Homo sapiens: one gene and its partners. The protein of the gene in region 1 purifies or fractionates together with the protein of each later gene. This does not show direct contact. Each region holds a gene or a part of one and is shown in the gene's direction. Other genes may lie near its edges.

Region 1 (2,566 bases):
CGACTCAGAGCTGCCTGGGCCCTGGCCTCAGGTTAGGAGGGGAGTGCCACAGCCTTTATTTGACTGCAGACGTTGCTCAGGCATTCCTGCCTGGCACCCCCGGGGACTCAGGAGTCAATATCGATAGCGTGTCAGCCTCTGCCTGCTGGCCTTATCTCCCATCCCTCCAGGGAGGGTGTTCCAGGGCCTTGGCTATGTGGTGGGAACCAGTGTTCCAGCAGCAGCCCAAGGCTGGTAGACCAGACTGTGGAGTCAGAGGTCAGCTCTGCATGGGGGCAACTTTGCAAGCCTTCCAGGCAGTGAGGTGGGTGGCTTGGGAAGGGGAGTTCCAGGTTTTATGAATATTCAACAGCTGAGAAATTCCCATCAGGGAGCTGAATTGGTGGAAGGAATCCACCATGGCAAGGAAGCAGGCACTTTCCACACACCATTCCCATGTAACCCGTGATAGAGCTCTCCAAGGTGTCATTGTTGTCCCCACTTTACAGATGAGGAAACTGAGGCATGGGGATGTTAAGTAATTGGCCCATGGTCACACAGCTAATAAGAGGCAGAGCCACAATTCAAATCAGGTTGTCCAATTCCAAGCCTGGGCCAGCGCCACACTAGAAACACCTCTGCAGGAGGGAGGAATGGTCCAGGGGCCAAAACCGTATGACTTGGCTCCTTCCTGTTTGGGGTGGGATTCGGGGAAGGCAGGTATTGACAGTGTAATGGTCACTCCACAGAGGACAGGCAAGGCCACCTCTGAGTGATAGTCAGAGGGCTGGCCCAGTGGCCCGGCCAGTGTTCAGAGCCACACTCTTGTCATGTTTAATGCCTCGGTGGCACAGGGGGCTCAGCACCAGACTTCCCCTGTGGCTCATGTTTCTGAATAAAGGCCCGTGGAGGGCTGAGGCCTCTACCCGGTAGGTTGTGGGATGTTCCCGAGCCTGGCACAGGCTCCCCGCTCTGGCCACTGGCCCAGCTTTGAAACAGGAGGAACGGAAGTCTCAGTGGTGGGAGGCAGGGGAGGGCAGGCACCACCACCCCAGAGTGCCATGCCTTCTGGGGCTATGGCCCAAGGGGAGCTCAGCCTCTGCGGCTCAGAGGGTCTCCCAGCATTCAGACTAGATTGATGTCCTGGGGAGAGACCAGGGGGCACCTGCCAAGGGCAGTGGGGAGGAAGGAGACAAGCACAAGAAGGATCTGTAGGGGCAACCTTGGCTGGGATCTGGTGTCTCCACAAGATTGAGGCACAGCGGGCGGGGCTCTTCCTGTGCCCAGGAAGCCAGGCTGGAGTTACCTTTAGGGGAGCCTAGAGTCCTCTCCTTGGGGTAACTCCAGCCTGGCTTTCTGGGCTGTTGTGTTTTCTCTGGGGGCTTTCCTTTTTCATATTTCTGAAAAGCTCTTTTTGACAAACTCCACCCTTCTGTCAGCTCAAATGAGGGATTTGTCCACACGTAGGTCAGGATCTGTTCCATTCAGGAAACCTGTTATAAGCTCCCATCGTGTGCAGTGTCTCCGGAGGGTCCCCCAATTTGGATGTGGGTCTTGCATTCTAGAATATGGCCCTGTGCTCCAGGATGTGGCTGGAGGCTCAGGAGGAGGGTGCTGGGACTGCCCCCCCCCTTCCCCCGCCAGGCCCTCTGGGTGGCCCGCCAGCCACTGCCTGTGTTTCTGCCTCCTTTCACTCCTTTTGTTACTGCAGCCACAAGTTTTATTTCCAATCTCACTCATCTCTTTCCAAGGAGGTTCCCTAGAGCACCGCAGCCTGACACTCACCATTTCTAGCCCATGGAGCTTCCCCAGGCTGAATGTCCCTGTCTCCACGGCCATAGACAGGCAGGGCTTTGCCCTACCCTCTTTCCATCCTCCTCTGCCTCTCTGCACAAATCAGTTCAAATCAACACAAGAGACTGTGGCAGGCACTGTACTGGGCACTGCACCCCCAGAGTTGATGCAATTCCAGGAGCTCTCAGGTCTATGGGAACGTTAAACCAAGTCACTCTAAGGGAAGCAGGTGGAAAACGCCGTGGGGAGGCCCTGCAGAAGGAAATGGAGGAAATCTGGGATGGCTTTTTGAAGGAGAGGGCACTGACATAGGGTTTGACAGAGGAAGATGCAGAGGATGATTCCCCAGAATAAATGAAGAGTGGGTGGGAAACACTGGGTGTGACTGAAACACTGAGGGCGGAGTAGTGTGGCCGGCAAGACAATTTGAGGTCACACTGCCAGGTGACAGCCTAAAGGCCCAGGATGTGGCCTTACTTCAGTTAGCCATGGGGAGCCATAGCGAGCAGAACTGACTGATTCCAAAGGCGGCAGCAGCTCTACTGTGCTTGGCCAGTTCAGGACTGTGGCAAAGACAGACTTCTCCCTTCCGCAGAGCCTTCCCACTCACCGCGCTCCGGCCCCCGGCCCTGCCTGCTTCTTCCACGGCCCAGATGTTGACAGCTGTCCCTGTTCTGCCCCAAATGCCCTTTTCTAGTTTGGGAAACCAGAGAGGAAAGGGTGCTGGTAGAGGGATGGCCTGGGGTCTGGGCTCTGGGTCGGCCTCACGCCCACTCCCACACCTGCCCCGTGC
Region 2 (3,826 bases), on another chromosome or scaffold:
AAACAAATAAAGGGGACACGTTGGGAACAGGCCCCCCAATGTGGCCATAAACTGTCCCCAAAACTGGCCATAAACAAAATCTCTGCAGCACTCTGACATGCTCTTGATGGCCATGATGCCCACGCTGGAAGGTTGTCGGTTTACTGGAATGAGGGCAAGGGACACCTGGCCCACCCAGGGTGGAAAACCGTTTAAGGCATTCTTAAACCACAAACAATAGCATGAGCGATCTGTGCCTTAAGGACATTTTCCTGCTGCAGATAACTAGCCAGAGCCCATCCTTTTGTTTCCCGTAAGGAATACTTTTAGTAAATCTTATCACTGGCTTGCTGTCAATAAATATGTGGGTAAATCTCTGTTCAAGGCTCTCAGCTCTGAAGGCTGTAAGACCCCTGATTTCCCACTTCACATGCTGTATTTCTGTGTGTGTGTCTTTAATTCCTCCAGCACCGCTGGGTTAGGGTCTCCACAACCGAGCTGGTCTCAGCAGTAAATATTGAAAAGGAATAGATACAATTGTCATTATTTACAGATAGAATTTCCAAACAATTCCCAGGGAATAAACTGAAAAACTAACAGAAACAAAACAAGAATGTAGTAAGGTGTCTGGATAAGAGATTTGTATCTAAAAATCAGTAGCTTTACAATGTGCCAGCAGTAGTCTGCTCAGACATCAGTAAATATCTCATTCACATTTCAAAAAAAATTGAAAATGCCCTGAAATAATGTAACCAGAAATACGAAAAAAAGGATATGAAAACATGTGGCTGCTAATGGACATGAAAGAATGTAATACTAGATTCTGAGATGCAATGTTTTTCATTTGTTCTTCCTGAAAAACCATTAGGTTGATGTGCATTACAGTGTTACGATTATGTATGAGTCTAAGGAAAATCAGATGAAATGTCCAAATTAAACCATGAAGGTGCATTGGTAGAGGAAGAGAAAATTAGGGTCAGTGGAGCAAAGCACAGTTAGAGGGAGAAGCAAGGAGGAGGAGGGATCACTGAGGTGGTGCCTGTCCCACAGGAAGCAAAAGCTGACGCCTAGTTCCCAGCATACCTACAGTAAACTTCAGGTCCACTGCATAGCACGTCTCTCATCACAGTAAAACTATGAAGGAACTCAGTGTACAAGGAGCTTCTACAAGATAGGCAGAAGACAGTAGCCAGATGGGCCAAGGGCCCCAGCCACCCACGCCCCTCCCTCTCCTTGAAGACGTGCAGCTCCAACACCACCATCACCAGGGCTCTGCTCAGCTCCTCCTAGTGTGTATCACCACAGGGCTGCTGGCTTGTGTCACGTTCACCACCAGACCCCGCGTCAGGAGTCCCGCCAGGGGTGTGGAGAGGCAGCGCTGCCTGGTTGGCCGTGGAGCTGTATGGAACATGGTGCCTCACAGGCAGTCTGCTTGGAGTCCTGGACCCTGGCTGTATCCTGCTGGAAAGGATGTGTGTGGGTCTAAGATGTGTATGTAATAGAAACATTTATTTATTCAGAAGCTTTAGTCAAAACTTCATTTTTAAGTTTGGAGTAATAAACTCATAGTCTGAATTTCCTAATTTTTCTGTTTAATTTATGTAACTTTTAAGTGAAATGCAAAACAACAGGTCTAAAAGTTAAGCAGTTCTTGGTATGGCTGCTTCTATGGATTAAAAGTTTACAAATAATATTTTGTGCCACAGTCAATGCAAAATCATGCTGCCGTGTTCCGTGTGGGAAGCGTGTTGCAAGAAGGTTGTGGGAAAATCAGCAAGCTCTATGGAGACCTAAAGCACCTGAAGACGTTCGACCGGGGTGAGCAGACAGTGGGCTCTGTGCACACTGTTGGGCCCTTCCTTCTGCAGGGTGGGCTGGTGTCTGTCCCGTCAGTGCTGACTTAGTTCCGTGCTTGCTGTCTGGATGGGTCCTGGCCCACAGCTATAAAGCCACAACCAGTGACTCCATGGACTAGCAGGCCCAGGCTGACAGCTCGGAGGGCCCATGTGACTGGGTCCCGCCTGCCCCTGATGGAACTTTTTGTGTCCCCAGGAATGGTCTGGAACACGGACCTGGTGGAGACCCTGGAGCTGCAGAACCTGATGCTGTGTGCGCTGCAGACCATCTACGGAGCAGAGGCACGGAAGGAGTCACGGGGCGCGCATGCCAGGGAAGACTACAAGGTGGGCCTTCTCACCACGCCCACCTGCACCTGCCTTTTCCTGCCACCTGGTGGGACTCAGCCCCACCCCTGCATTTTCTCTGCATTTTCTTTCGTTGCCCCAAAAGTAAATCCAAAAAATGCCTTTTTCCCCCCTGGTAACTTTGATCCCTGGGTTCTCGCCATCTTCTGGATCACTGTGACCTTTTCCTTGCTTTGGGTCGGCATCCACTGATGCCAGCAGTGGCATCTCCAAGCCAATGTGCTTTGCTGTTAGAAGGCCAAGGTTAGAAGTGCAGCTAGAGTGGCAAGACCAGGAAATAAATGCCAGTTTATTAAATAACGAGTAAGCCATCATTTCAAGCCTGCCCTGTGGAGGAAATGCCAGTTTATTAAATAACGAGTAAGCCACCGTTTCAAACCTGCCCTGTGGAGGAAATGCCAGTTTATTAAATAACGAGTAAGCCACCGTTTCAAACCTGCCCTGTGGAGGAAATGCCAGTTTATTAAATAACGAGTAAGCCACCGTTTCAAGCCTGCCCTGTGGAGGAAATGCCAGTTTATTAAATAACGAGTAAGCCACCGTTTCAGACCTGCCCTGTGGTGGAAATGCCAGTTTATTAAATAACGAGTAAGCCACTGTTTCAAACCTGCCCTGTGGAGGAAATGCCAGTTTATTAACGAGTAAGTCACTGTTTCAAACCTGTCCTGTGGAGGAAATGCCAGTTTATTAACGAATAAGCCACCGTTTCAAACCTGCCCTGTGAAGGAAATGCCAGTTTATTAAATAAGGAGTAAGCCACCGTTTCAAGCCTGCCCTGTGGAGGAAATGCCCGTTTATTAAATAACGAGTAAGCCACCGTTTCAAGCCTGCCCTGTGGAGGAAATGCCCGTTTATTAAATAAGGAGTAAGCCACCATTTCAAGCCTGCCCTGTGGAGGAAATGCCAGTTTATTAAATAACGAGTAAGCCACCGTTTCAAGCCTGCCCTGTGGAGGAAATGCCAGTTTATTAAATAACGAGTAAGCCACCATTTCAAACCTGCCCTGTGGAGGAAATGCCAGTTTATTAACGAGTAAGTCACCGTTTCAAACCTGCCCTGTGGAGGAAATGCCAGTTTAGTAACGAGTAAGTCACCGTTTTAAGCCTGTCCTGTGGAGGAAATGCCAGTTTATTAACGAGTAAGCCACCGTTTCAAACCTGCCCTGTGGAGGAAGTGCCAGTTTATTAAATAATGAGTAAGTCACCGTTTCAAGCCTGCCCTGTGGAGGAAATGCCAGTTTATTAAATAACGAGTAAGTCACCGTTTCATACCTGCCCTGTGGAGGAAATGCCAGTTTATTAACGAGTAAGCCACCGTTTCAGACCTGCCCTGTGGAGGAAAATGCCAGTTTATTAACAAGTAAGTCACTGTTTCAGACCTGCCCTGTGGATGAAATGCCAGTTTATTAATGAGTAAGTCACCATTTCAGACCTGCGCTGTGGAGGAAATGCCAGTTTATTAAATAAGGAGTAAGCCACCATTTCAGACCTGTCCTGTGGTTTGGAAAAGGTATTATAGAGCCTGCCCTGTGGTCACTTGTTCTTCAGATGAACTGATTTTTGTGCAGAGCGCACGTGTTGGATTCTGCCTGGTAAGAGTTTTTCCCATATGATAGCAAAAAACGACGGAAAGGGAAGCTTGGG
Region 3 (3,826 bases), on another chromosome or scaffold:
ATCTTTTAGATTTATAGAAGAGTCAGAAATGTACAAGAGAGTTTTTTTGTTGTTGTTTTTGTTTTTTGAGACAGAGTCTGTCTCTGTCGCCAAGGCTGGAGTGCAGTGGCGCAATCCTGGCTCACTGTAGCCTCTGCCTCCTGGGTTCAAGTGCTTCTCCTGCCTCAGCCTCCCGAGTAGCTGGGACTACAGGTGCACGCCACCACGCCTGTAGTCCCAGCTGTATTGTAAAAATACAAAATTTTAGTATTTTTAGTAGAGACAGGGTTTCACCATGTTGGCCAGGATGGTCTCGATCTCCTGACCTCGTGATCTGCCTGCCTCGGCCTCCCAAAGTGCCGGGATTACAGGTGTGAGCCACCGCGCCCTGCCAAGAAGAGTTCTTTTGCATACCCTTTACTCAGGTCCTCTCATGTTAACGTTTTACATAACTGTAGAACATTTATCTAAAGTAAGATATTAGCCCAGAACAATACTACTAACTGAAGTATAAAACTTATTTGAATTTCAACAGTTTTTTTTTCATTTCTTATTTTCCTTTTGTGTGCTCTGTTTATACCATGATCCATGATTTTTTTAAAATCATGATTGTCTTTTAAAGATCTGTGTGTCTCTGTTTTGAGTTTTTCCTGTTTATTTTGAAAAGTACTGTTGGTCAAGATAATTGGTCAATAATCCATGTTGGTTTTAACAAAAAGCATTTTAACATTAAAAATATTACAGTATAAAATAACACTCTGTGCTTTAAATTGAGGTTTTATGTCATTTTAGCAGAATTATAATATTTCTGATATACTCATGTTTGACAAGTTGAAACAGATTTGTTTCTTAAAGGAAGGTTTAATATACAAAAAAAGGTAATCTTAAACTTACGAAAAAGTAAATTTTACAATTTGAGCATTACTAGATGTTTAGTTTGCATGAACTCATAGTTAGAAATTCTGCAATAGGAATATCTACAACCGGCTGATTTGGAATTTGAAATTATAGTGTTACATGTATACCTATCAAATTAAAATTAAGGAAATACAATAGCAATATATAGAATGAATGTAGTAACAGAAATTAACTCTTTACTGCATCATTGAACTTATTGTTAGTTACAGGTTTAAAAGAAGTTCATTTAACATCCAGTGTGTCTAATTCTTCTGGAAGTGGTGTAGTACCATTGTTCTTCTGGCATTTTTAAATATTAAACCTTTTTGGATAGATGGAAGCCTTATACAAAATCTACTTTATTTTAGCAAGGATTCTCTGTCCTTTTGTATAGTTGGTACCTTACTAATTTAAACTCTAATATCAATCTAAAGAGAAATTTATTATGCAATTTGTATTTAGGTTTTTTTTTTTTTTTTTGGAATGAAGTTCAGAGGTAGATCCTCCTGGAAGAAAGAAAGCAAGCGAACTTTTTAAAGAAAATTAGACTTGAATATTTAAGAATGTCCCTTACAGAGAAAAGGCCAACTATAATACTAAGCTAAAAGTTATGAAAAATTAATAGGTTCTTTTATAGAGCTAAGAATGATGAAACCATCAATACTTCCTTCTTCCTAAAAATCCAGATCAAAACTTCAGGTTAGGTTTCTAAGTTTAGGACATGAATATTATTTTTTTCTGGAAAAGAAGATGAGTATATGTGTAATAAGACAAGTAGAACTGAGAGATTTAGTTTTTTTTTTTTTTAAGTTTTAGTTCAGAATAACATTAATTTTGAGAGATTGAGGTAAAGAACCTTAACTAATGCTAAGGAGTTTATTTTGATTAACATAGGTTATTCTGACCACCACCTCTTCCTTCCTTAATCTCCTTAGAATCTGACAGTCTCAAAGCTGTCACACAAATTAGACTAATTTTGACACTTTGAAATGAAAACTTCAAGGAAGAAGTAGCCACGGACAGTTATGTTTATAATCAGTAGGTGGCACTCTTTCCTCAGGTAGCCCCCCATTTTCACATGATGTGTTTGAAGGTTAAATGCCACCAAAAGTGCTGAGTCAGCTATAAAACTAAGTCCCTGAATTCCATGGCCCTTTTAAATATGTAATCATTCAAGATTGAAAAAAAAAATTAAGCATTTTTTGTTTGTTTGCTTGTTTGTTTTTGAGACGGAGTTTCACTCTTGTTGGCCAGGCTGGAGTGCAATGGCGCCATCTCAGCTCACTGCAACCTCTGCCTCCCGGATTCAAGCAATTCTCCTTCAGCCCTCCAAGTAGCTGGGGTTACAGGTGCCCGCCACCATGCCCAGCTAGTTTTTGTATTTTTAGTAGAGATGAGGTTTCACCATGTTGGCCAGGCTGGTCTTGAACTCCTGACCTCGTGATCCCCCCACCTCGGCCTTCCAAAGTGCTGGATTACAGGCGTGAGCCACTGTGCCTGGCTTGCATTTTTAAAATACTGAATTATTCAAAAGAAGTACCCTGTCAATATGTGCTTTCTAGGAAAACAGTAAAATAGGCCACAATTTGGAGTGACACCATTCAGATCAAGGTCTATCCAGTTTTTTCTTTTCATGCTAAGTGCCTACATCACCGAAACACACTAATATAAAATTATCCTTTCTCCTTCATTTTCAGATGTGTAAAAAATGGTACTTAAAGTGTTTTCATGATCATTTTGTAGGTAGACTAGATATAGCCCGTTGAACCTCTTTTAAAATTTAGACTTTTGATAGTAATATAAAAGCATATTGAAATTTGTAGATATTATATGAGGAATGGCACCTAGATTTGAAAATTATGCTTGGCTTGTAGAGACAACTAGTTTCTCTCGCTCTTTTTTTTTTTTTTTTTTTTTTTTTTGAGACAGATTCTCACTCAGTTGCCCAGGCTGGAGTGCAGTGGTGCAGTCTTGGCTCACTGCAACCTCTGCCTCCTGGGTTAAAGCGATTCTCATGCCTCAGCCTCCCTAGTAGCTGAGACTACAGGCGTGCACCACCACGCCCAGCTAATTTTTGTATTTTTAGTAGAGACAGGATTTCACCATGTTCACCATGTTGGTCAGGCTGGTCTTGAACTCCTGGCCTCAAGTGATCTGCCCGCCTCGACCTCCCAGAGTGCTGGGATTATAGGTGTGAGCCACTAAGCCTGGCTGAGACAACTAGTTTCCCTTAACTCATTGGAATTCTCTAGGATTAGGAGAATTCCACAGAGCCTATATGATATTATAGCTCAACATTTAGTATACCAAAGGCATACCCGTGTAAATCTAGGAGTTATTTCCAGAGATTGTTTTAAGGAGCAGTCTTATATTCAGGGTAGAAAGTTATGATTGGATCTGCTGTTAAGGAGAACAAAGGAGCTTCTAAAGGTTTGGGAGGTTTACTGGTAGTAACTATTCTAGGAAATATTTATGTTTTAAGGTGATGTTCACATGGGTTCTTTAGAAGGAACATAGTCAAGTGTGATGGATTAACTCTATATAGTCTTTCTCCTCTTGTGCGTGTAGGAAATCTGACCTGCAGTGTCAGTTGATGTGACAAGAGATAAAGAAAGCACAGTATTTTAAAATCTAAAGCAGATTCCTTTCTTAGAAAACAATAGGAAAAAATTATAGATGGATGTCTTTGCTGAAATCTAACAATTAGCTCATATTCCATGAGAAAGAGTGGCCTAAGAATTATTTCATGTTACCTAGCCTTCTGAAGCTACTCACTTGATGTGCCTAGCACTTTGAAACTAACCTTTTCTTTCTTTGTTCATGACAGTTTAATTCCAAATATTTACTATTTTCTCTTGTAACTGTTAGAACAGTTCCTTTTGACATTAATTTTTGCCTACATATATATTTTTAAGTTGAGACCAAATCGGTGAAGTGTTGAGCAAGTAAC
Region 4 (3,826 bases), on another chromosome or scaffold:
AGTAATAGCTTAATATTCATTATTCATGTTCAAATTATGGATGACTTCCAAGACTTTGATTTGTATATAGTTTTCTATTATAAGTTAATTGAAATAAATTCACTAATTTATACCTTTGTATTGTGGAAAGTAACATAGCTTTGATGTCAAACAAGCCTTGGATTCCAATACTGGCTCTTTTACTTGTAAGGTGAATGACCTTGGGCAGGTTAACTTTTCTAAGCCTCAGTTTCCTAACTTAAAAATTACTTACTATGTACCTTACAGGGTTATGGGGAGGATAGAAGGAGACAAGTAGGTAAAATACAGTATGTGCTTGCACTGTATGGACTCCCTCTTCCCCACCTCAAGGGTACAATTTCTCTATTATCTGTCTTTGTTCTTCTGACCTGCTTCTTTTCTACAACTGATTGTGACAAGAGTAATGGTGATGGGGAATTGTTGAAGCAATTCTCTGCCTCAGCCTCCCGAGTAGCTGGGATTACAGGCATGTGCCACAACGCCCGGCTGATTTTTTTTGTATTTTTAGTAGAGATGGGGTTTCATCATATTGGCCAGGCTGGTCTCGAACTCCTGACCTCAGGTGATAAGCCCACCTTGGCCTCCCAAAGTGCTGAGATTACAGGCGTGAACCACTGTGCCTGGCCTTAAAAAGACTTTTAGGCAAGATGGTGTTATTTATTACTGACATTTTATTTAATTGGGAATATTTCTGATAATTGTGTTTGTGTGTGAATATCTATCTGAAAAAGAAAGCCTTTTCTGTTTTAGGTTAATACAAAAGCTGAACCAGCAAACAATATTACAAGTTTCCTGTGGCAACTGGCATTGCTTGGCTCTTGCGGCTGGTAAAGTAACATTAAACATATGCTAATGCTATGTTAATTTTGAAAACATTTCTCTTTGTCTTTTTGTGTGATATTATCTAACTGAAAACTTTGAATTAACTGGTTAGGGTCTATGCATTGCTGTTGGACAGTGACAATTCTCATATGGGCTTTGCATAGCTCATCCTTTTCTCAGGGTGTGGGTGATGAAGTAGGTGGTCATCATTGCTGCTCCAACTTTCACAGGGGAAGATAAGCAGGGGGCAGGACCATACCTAGGTGTTCTGAGCATGGAGGAGATTGATTTTTCTTAGCGACAGCCAACTCTCAAGCTACATTCCACTATCAAGCTCCCAAATGAATGAAAAAGAAGGAGTTGGAGAAACCTAAATAAATCTGCACTTCTGTGTCCTGCTTGATTATCTGCAGAGCAGACCAAGTGGTCATTGCTGGACCTCCCGAAGTCTTGGGTCTCATAGTCTTAGTGTGGTCAGAACTAGTGTGATCTTGCTTAAGCCTGGTAATTGGCCTGTCCGAAATTGAATTTACTTATACATTTAATATTTTCTGTGTATAAATTTTAATAGCCTTTGAAGGGCAGTAAGACTCAGCTTACCTCTCTGTTATATCACTTGGGAGTTTTGGTTTTGGCAGTCTGATAGCATGAAGTATCTCTGTTCCTTTGCTCTTGGGTGGGTTTGGTGTTGGGGGGCAACTGGCAAATGACCCTAATAACTAGATTATTTTTGTGTGTGGAGCTTGTATCATTTTATGGTAATACCAGTTATCCTGTTATTTCAGATGGCCAGTTCTTCACCTGGGGAAAGAACAGCCATGGGCAGCTTGGCTTAGGGAAGGAGTTCCCCTCCCAAGCCAGCCCACAGAGGGTGAGGTCCCTGGAGGGGATCCCACTGGCTCAGGTGGCTGCCGGAGGGGCTCACAGCTTTGCCCTGTCTCTCTCAGGAGCTGTTTTTGGCTGGGGGATGAATAATGCCGGGCAGCTAGGGCTCAGTGATGAAAAAGGTAGGTAAACCCTTCATATGTATGTATTTAGTTTAAAAGCACATTCATTTAACACATGCTTCTTGAGGATCTACTATGTGCTAGCCCCATGTGAGATACTAAGGGAGAAGCAGTGAACACAATAGAGAACATCCTCGTCTTAGTGGAGACTGTATTCTAGTGAGTAGAGGTGCAACAAAACCAGTAAATACACAGGATTTGAGAGTGCAGCTTCCTGCTTTACATAAGGTGGTGGGGAAGGGCCCCTCTGATAAGAAAATGTTTGAGCAGAACCTGTAGGAAATCAGGTGGGAGATGGGACATGTAAATGTCTGGGTGAAAAATGTTCCTGTCAGAGAGAACTGGGTGTGCAAAGGTGCTCATGTGGGAAGAGATGTAGTTGGAGAGAAGGGGAAGAGTAGCACAGCTGCAGGTCAGAGAAGTCGTGTAGACCCAGTTATGCAGGGCCCTGAGGGGCAGGGTGAGGATATAACTGGTTTTCTCAGTGAGAGGGGAAGACCCTGAGGGTTTGGAGGAGAAGCGTGATCCACTTTGGCTTTGGCTGTAGTGGGTCAAGGGGGAAGCTGGAAGACCAGCTTGGAGGTTGTGGGAGTAAAGTCAGATTTTAAACATATTTTGAAGATGAGGCCAGTTGGTTTTGTTCACTGTTGGATGTGTGGTTTGAAATAAAGGAACAGCTGGAAGGGCAAAATGACTGTTTCTGAAATGGGGAAAACCGTGTGTAGTAAAGTGAGCTGGAGAGTGGGCAGGGTTGGAGAGTGTAGGGAAACCATGAGGTAGGTTTTAGGTAAATTAAAACTGAGAAGTCTGTTGGATATCCAAGTACAGATGCAGGCAGGAAACTGAACATGCGTCAGGAATCCAGGAATCCAAAATTCATGCCAAGATAGTTGTGTATATTTCATCTCAAAGGCAAATGGTAGTGATATTCTGATATTTAATTTATTCTAGATCGAGAATCTCCATGCCATGTAAAACTCTTACGCACGCAAAAAGTTGTCTATATTAGTTGTGGAGAAGAACACACAGCAGTTCTCACAAAGGTAAGGAGCTCAGAGTATTTTACTTTGGTGCTGGGGATATGATGGGTGATTAGAATTGCTTGATTATGTTAGTGTAGTGATGGTGTGTGATTACAGTATTGTGGCTTGAACTTGAATGCTCTCTTTTATGTGGGTTTGTTGTTTTCCAAAGGAATAGAAAAAGACTACTTTTTTGTATGTCTCTGTTATCCTCTTTGGTAATCTTGTAGATTTTTCATATATATATATATATATATATATATATATATATATATACACACACACACATAATGTAGATTATATATATATACACACATATAATGTAGATTATATAAAAATGTAGATTATATATATAAATATAATGTATATATTTATATATATATAAATTCCTTGGTTCTTTATGGAACAAAGACAGCACTTTGTTATTTTTATTTGTTATTTTATGTATATATAATATATATAAAATGATGTCCTATGTTCCTTTAAAACAAGTCATTTAAATATGTAAAAAAGAAACAGCAATTTAATTAATGTTTTAAAATAATCATGTTTCTTTTGCTTCTAAATACATTCTAGAGAGAATGAAAATGTATTTTTATATTGAACAAATATTATTCTACGTTCACTTTGATAAAATGCCTTAACATTTATTTAAATACAGCTGTTAAAAAAACAGCTTACTTACCAAGGAATTTGTAGAGCACCTAATTTCTTACATGTGAATGATCATGTAAAATCATCTCATTTAGCCTAGCTCCTAGTTTCTCCTTTTTTAAAATTTTGCTTCCTAACACATCATTGTACTTTCAAACGATTTTAAAAATTTACAGAAGGCACACATTCCTTTGAGCATTGCTATCTTTGTTCCATAAAGATGCAGTCTGAAATTCCCTTTTTATTATTTTTCTATTTAATGAACATCCTTACAAAGTGATTTTGGCCAAGTGTCAAGTG
Region 5 (3,826 bases), on another chromosome or scaffold:
ATTTGGCAGCTGTCCTCCAGTCTTAAAAGGTATGACTATCCTCACAGATTTTTAAATCCTGGTGTTGGATTTGCCCTGGCATGTTGTCATTATCAACAGAAGACTTATTATGTGCCTACTCTATGTGGATCATAGGGCTAGTCATATAAAATGAAGAAAGGAGTATGGATGATCTAGAAGGTTTGTCCTAGCCCTATAGTTCTGAGATTGCGTTATCACAGAAATGCTCTGAGGATAAACTGTGGGAGAAGGTACTTTTTCCTGTGGCCAGTTAACAGAGACGATTAAGCATACAAAAGTATAAAGGCCAAAGATGTGAGATCAGTTATCTTTGAAGAATTCCATTAGCTTCTGTGTCTTCTATGATCCTGTCTTCTCTCCACGAATACAATCAAGAATATCTGGAGCAGTGCACTGGGCAACTCAAAAAAAGCACAATCTAGAGTCTGTTTCTGACCAGTGTCAGGTATAACTTTGTGCAGCTGACACACATGTGTTTTGTAGGTACCAAGAACTAGGTTCATGTTCCAATTCAGTTTCTTTCTAGCTGTATAACTTTGGGTAAATCATATAAATTATCTGAGGTTTAGTGGGGTCAAAAATGATGCCTAGAGTTTCTGGGAAGATGAAATACCAATTATAATAATAGCAAATGTTTATTGAACATTTACTGTATGTTGGGTATTCTGCTAAATGCATTATCTCATTAAGTTTTAGAACACTCATTTTATAGATAAGAATACAGGCCCAAAGTTTAAATCAACTCTTCCAGTATCATATAGCCCAAAAGTGGTAGAGCAGGAATTCCAGCCCAAGTTTGAAACCAGAATTCATACTCGTAGTCACTATCTTAAAAACCTATTATACTTAACTGGTGCATAATAGCCGCACAAATTATAGGTACAATTATTTATATATGAAGTTAAGTGTAGCATCTGTGCCATACAGACTGTCTCATTGCCAACTTGTAGAAGCGCCTATGAGAAAGGGAAGCAGACCTTCATTCTGTTGTTGCAGCTGAGTTCTTGCTTATCTCCTGACAGGGCTTCTAGCTGCCCTTTGGCCTCAGCCATCATAATCTGCATCCTCTACCAGGCCACTGAAGCTGAGTTGCAGAATTCTAAAACCTAGCGGCATTATAATTTCATTATTTTTATTCTGACTTTTGTATTTTTTAAGAACTTTTATATAATTCACCTACCATACATACAGTTCACCCATTTAAAGTGTACAGTTCAAAAGTACCTAGTAGTATTTACAGATATTTGCAACCATTATCACAGTCAATTTTAGAGCATTTTCATCACCTCAAAAAAAAAACCTCTGTACTCTAGCTAATCACTTCCCTATCCTCCCACTTGCCTGAGCCCTGGGCAACCACCAGTCTACTTTCTCTGTTCTCTTTTATGGACATTTCATATGAATGGAATCATACAATATGTGGTCTTTTATAACTGGGTTCTTTCACTTAGTGCAATTACTTCCTATGTATACTGCACACAAGGTTCGTTCATGTTGTAGCATGTATCAGTACTTCATTCCTTTCTATGGTCAAGTAACATTCCATTTTGTTTATCCATTTGTTGACAGACATTTGGGTTGTTTCTACTTTTTGGCTATTATGAATAATGTTGCTATACATATTTGTGTACATGTTTTTAGGTAGACATGTTTTCATTTCTCTTGGGTAATACACCTGGGAGAAGACTTGTATGGTATGCTAACTCTCTTTGTTTGATGAACTGCCAGACTGTTGTCCAAAGTGGCTGCCCTATTTTACAATCTCACTAGCAGTGTACAAGGGTTCTGATTTTTTTCACGTTTCCTGCTGATTTTTACCAACTGCCGTATTGTTGGTGGAGTGGAATGTGAATGTTCTTGCTCTCTTCCCGGCTTTCTGCTGATGTCTTCTCCCTCCCCCACCTCACCGACTGATTTAGTAGCTTAACAGTGGCTGATTCTGATGTCTTATTCCCACTGCCAGGTCATGTGATGTGAAAATGGCAATGAAAGGTTTCACAGACTACTAGTTGCCACGTGCAGACAACACAAGCTATGTGACTCTCTCGCAAAAAGTGATTTTGTCACTCCCCAGCAAATTCATTATACAGTCTAAACTCCTTCAGCATATGAAGTATTACAGCATTCATCCCCTAGTGACATCTCCAGCTTTCTTTTATGCCCCTCTCAAAATACATTCTCTTACTCTGGCAATATTATGGAATTTGCAATATGCTAAGTTATCCAAGTTTCCAGTGACCCCGTACCTTTAAACATATTCTTCTCTCTGGCTTAGCTATCTTTCTGTAACCTGGCTCACTCCTACTTCCAAGAAGCCTTCCCTGACATACCTTAGTCTTCCTTAACATGCCTTAGTCTAAATTAGGTGGTCCTAGTTATTCTTTTTTTTTTTGAGATGGAGTTTCACTCTTGTCACCCAGGCTGGAGCGCAATGACGCGATCTTGGCTCACTGCAACCTCCTCATCCGGCTTCAAGTGATTCTCCTGCCTCAGCCTCCTGAGTAGCTGGGATTACGGACCCACGACCACACCCGGCTAATTTTTGTATTTTTTGTAGAGATGGGGTTTCACCATGTTGGCCAGGCTGGACTTGAACTCGTGACCTCAAGTGATCGCCTAGCCTTGGCCTCCCAAAGTGGTGGGATTACAGGTGTGAGCCACCACGCCCAGCCCATCCTAGTTATTCTTAAAAGCATTTATGCTTACCTCTGTTAGTTACCACATGGAGCTATAATTATTTAATATCTGTGTCTCCTCCTGGGCCCGCCCCCTCCTCCAAAGTGTGAGCTCCTTTACCATTCACTATACAGTAGAAACCTAAGCCCAGGTGGGACTTTCTCACTCACCCCTTGGTAACCAGACCCAGCCCAGGGCCTGGCGTGGCATGTTTTGTTATGTGAATGATTGACATTCATCTGGGCTGGGCTGCAGCCTTGACCTCCTAATTAGTCTTTGCCTGCAGCCCAGTCATTGTCAGCCATCCACAAAGTCCCCTATAACCTAGCCATCTCTATGAACATTCCCTTCTCTTTTTTTTTTTTTTAAACAACAAATTGGATCCACTGAAACTTTTATTTAACTTTGTAATATGAACATTTACCATATAAGGTTATAAGACAATATAAAATCTATCTCATTTCATTTATAGCATAGCTATAAATCAATCTAATCTCTCTTATTAATGTTTTATATATATATATATATTTTTTTTTTTCCTGCATACTTAGGCAATATTTTCCCCAAGGGATATATCATTCTCAGTAAACTACCGCAAGAACAAAAAACCAAACATCGCATATTCTCACTCATAGGTGGGAATTGAACAATGAGATCACATGGACACAGGAAGGGGAACATCCCTTCTCTTTCTTACCCTAAGTGAAACCTGACCATAACCTCTGAGGACATATTTCCACTGCAGACTGCAAGTGGTGGCTGATGTTTCTCTCACAGCCTTCATTACTCCGGTACTACAGGTAGAGATGGGTCTCTCCTTTGCAGCTTCCAATGCGTCCTCTTCCCTAAAATCCCCCCTTTGAATGCATGTCATCACATTGTGCCACTTCTATGCCTCTTCTTTGCGGTTAAACACACACCTAGTCTTTTGAAGATAATTCCTGGCTCATTGGCACTCTCTCTAACATTTGTCCTTTCTTAAGTCTTGGTGATTGCCATATTCACATAGATGGTTATTCTAGTAACTTGGCCTCTCAGTTTTACTTCCTTTCTTCCCATTATCCTGTTTTCTATCATGCCTTAAACATTTATTTTCATAGACATACCCTAGTAGACCTTGCAATTAATA

Evidence for each region.
Region 2: the proteins of SLC6A9 (region 1) and SDHA purify together in Homo sapiens (affinity purification with mass spectrometry; one large-scale study listed by BioGRID and IntAct). This does not show direct contact.
Region 3: the proteins of SLC6A9 (region 1) and TMEM33 purify together in Homo sapiens (affinity purification with mass spectrometry; one large-scale study listed by BioGRID and IntAct). This does not show direct contact.
Region 4: the proteins of SLC6A9 (region 1) and HERC3 purify together in Homo sapiens (affinity purification with mass spectrometry; one large-scale study listed by BioGRID and IntAct). This does not show direct contact.
Region 5: the proteins of SLC6A9 (region 1) and SPCS2 purify together in Homo sapiens (affinity purification with mass spectrometry; one large-scale study listed by BioGRID and IntAct). This does not show direct contact.

Annotation. Positions count from the first base shown.
Region 1 is NC_000001.11:43,998,028-44,000,593, reverse strand, and holds part of SLC6A9 (sodium- and chloride-dependent glycine transporter 1), read left to right. Parts: intron 1-2,368; coding exon of another isoform or gene 2,369-2,470; exon of another isoform or gene 2,471-2,566. UniProt on the Homo sapiens protein: Sodium- and chloride-dependent glycine transporter. Essential for regulating glycine concentrations at inhibitory glycinergic synapses.
Region 2 is NC_000005.10:249,307-253,132, forward strand, and holds part of SDHA (succinate dehydrogenase [ubiquinone] flavoprotein subunit, mitochondrial), read left to right. Parts: intron 1-1,685; coding exon 1,686-1,797; intron 1,798-2,031; coding exon 2,032-2,162; intron 2,163-3,826. UniProt on the Homo sapiens protein: Flavoprotein (FP) subunit of succinate dehydrogenase (SDH) that is involved in complex II of the mitochondrial electron transport chain and is responsible for transferring electrons from succinate to ubiquinone (coenzyme Q).
Region 3 is NC_000004.12:41,955,929-41,959,754, forward strand, and holds part of TMEM33 (transmembrane protein 33), read left to right. Parts: 3' UTR 1-3,826. UniProt on the Homo sapiens protein: Acts as a regulator of the tubular endoplasmic reticulum (ER) network by modulating intracellular calcium homeostasis. Mechanistically, stimulates PKD2 calcium-dependent activity. Suppresses the RTN3/4-induced formation of the ER tubules.
Region 4 is NC_000004.12:88,651,241-88,655,066, forward strand, and holds part of HERC3 (probable E3 ubiquitin-protein ligase HERC3), read left to right. Parts: intron 1-771; coding exon 772-848; intron 849-1,628; coding exon 1,629-1,850; intron 1,851-2,801; coding exon 2,802-2,893; intron 2,894-3,826. UniProt on the Homo sapiens protein: E3 ubiquitin-protein ligase which accepts ubiquitin from an E2 ubiquitin-conjugating enzyme in the form of a thioester and then directly transfers the ubiquitin to targeted substrates.
Region 5 is NC_000011.10:74,969,671-74,973,496, forward strand, and holds part of SPCS2 (signal peptidase complex subunit 2), read left to right. Parts: coding exon 1-29; intron 30-3,826. UniProt on the Homo sapiens protein: Component of the signal peptidase complex (SPC) which catalyzes the cleavage of N-terminal signal sequences from nascent proteins as they are translocated into the lumen of the endoplasmic reticulum.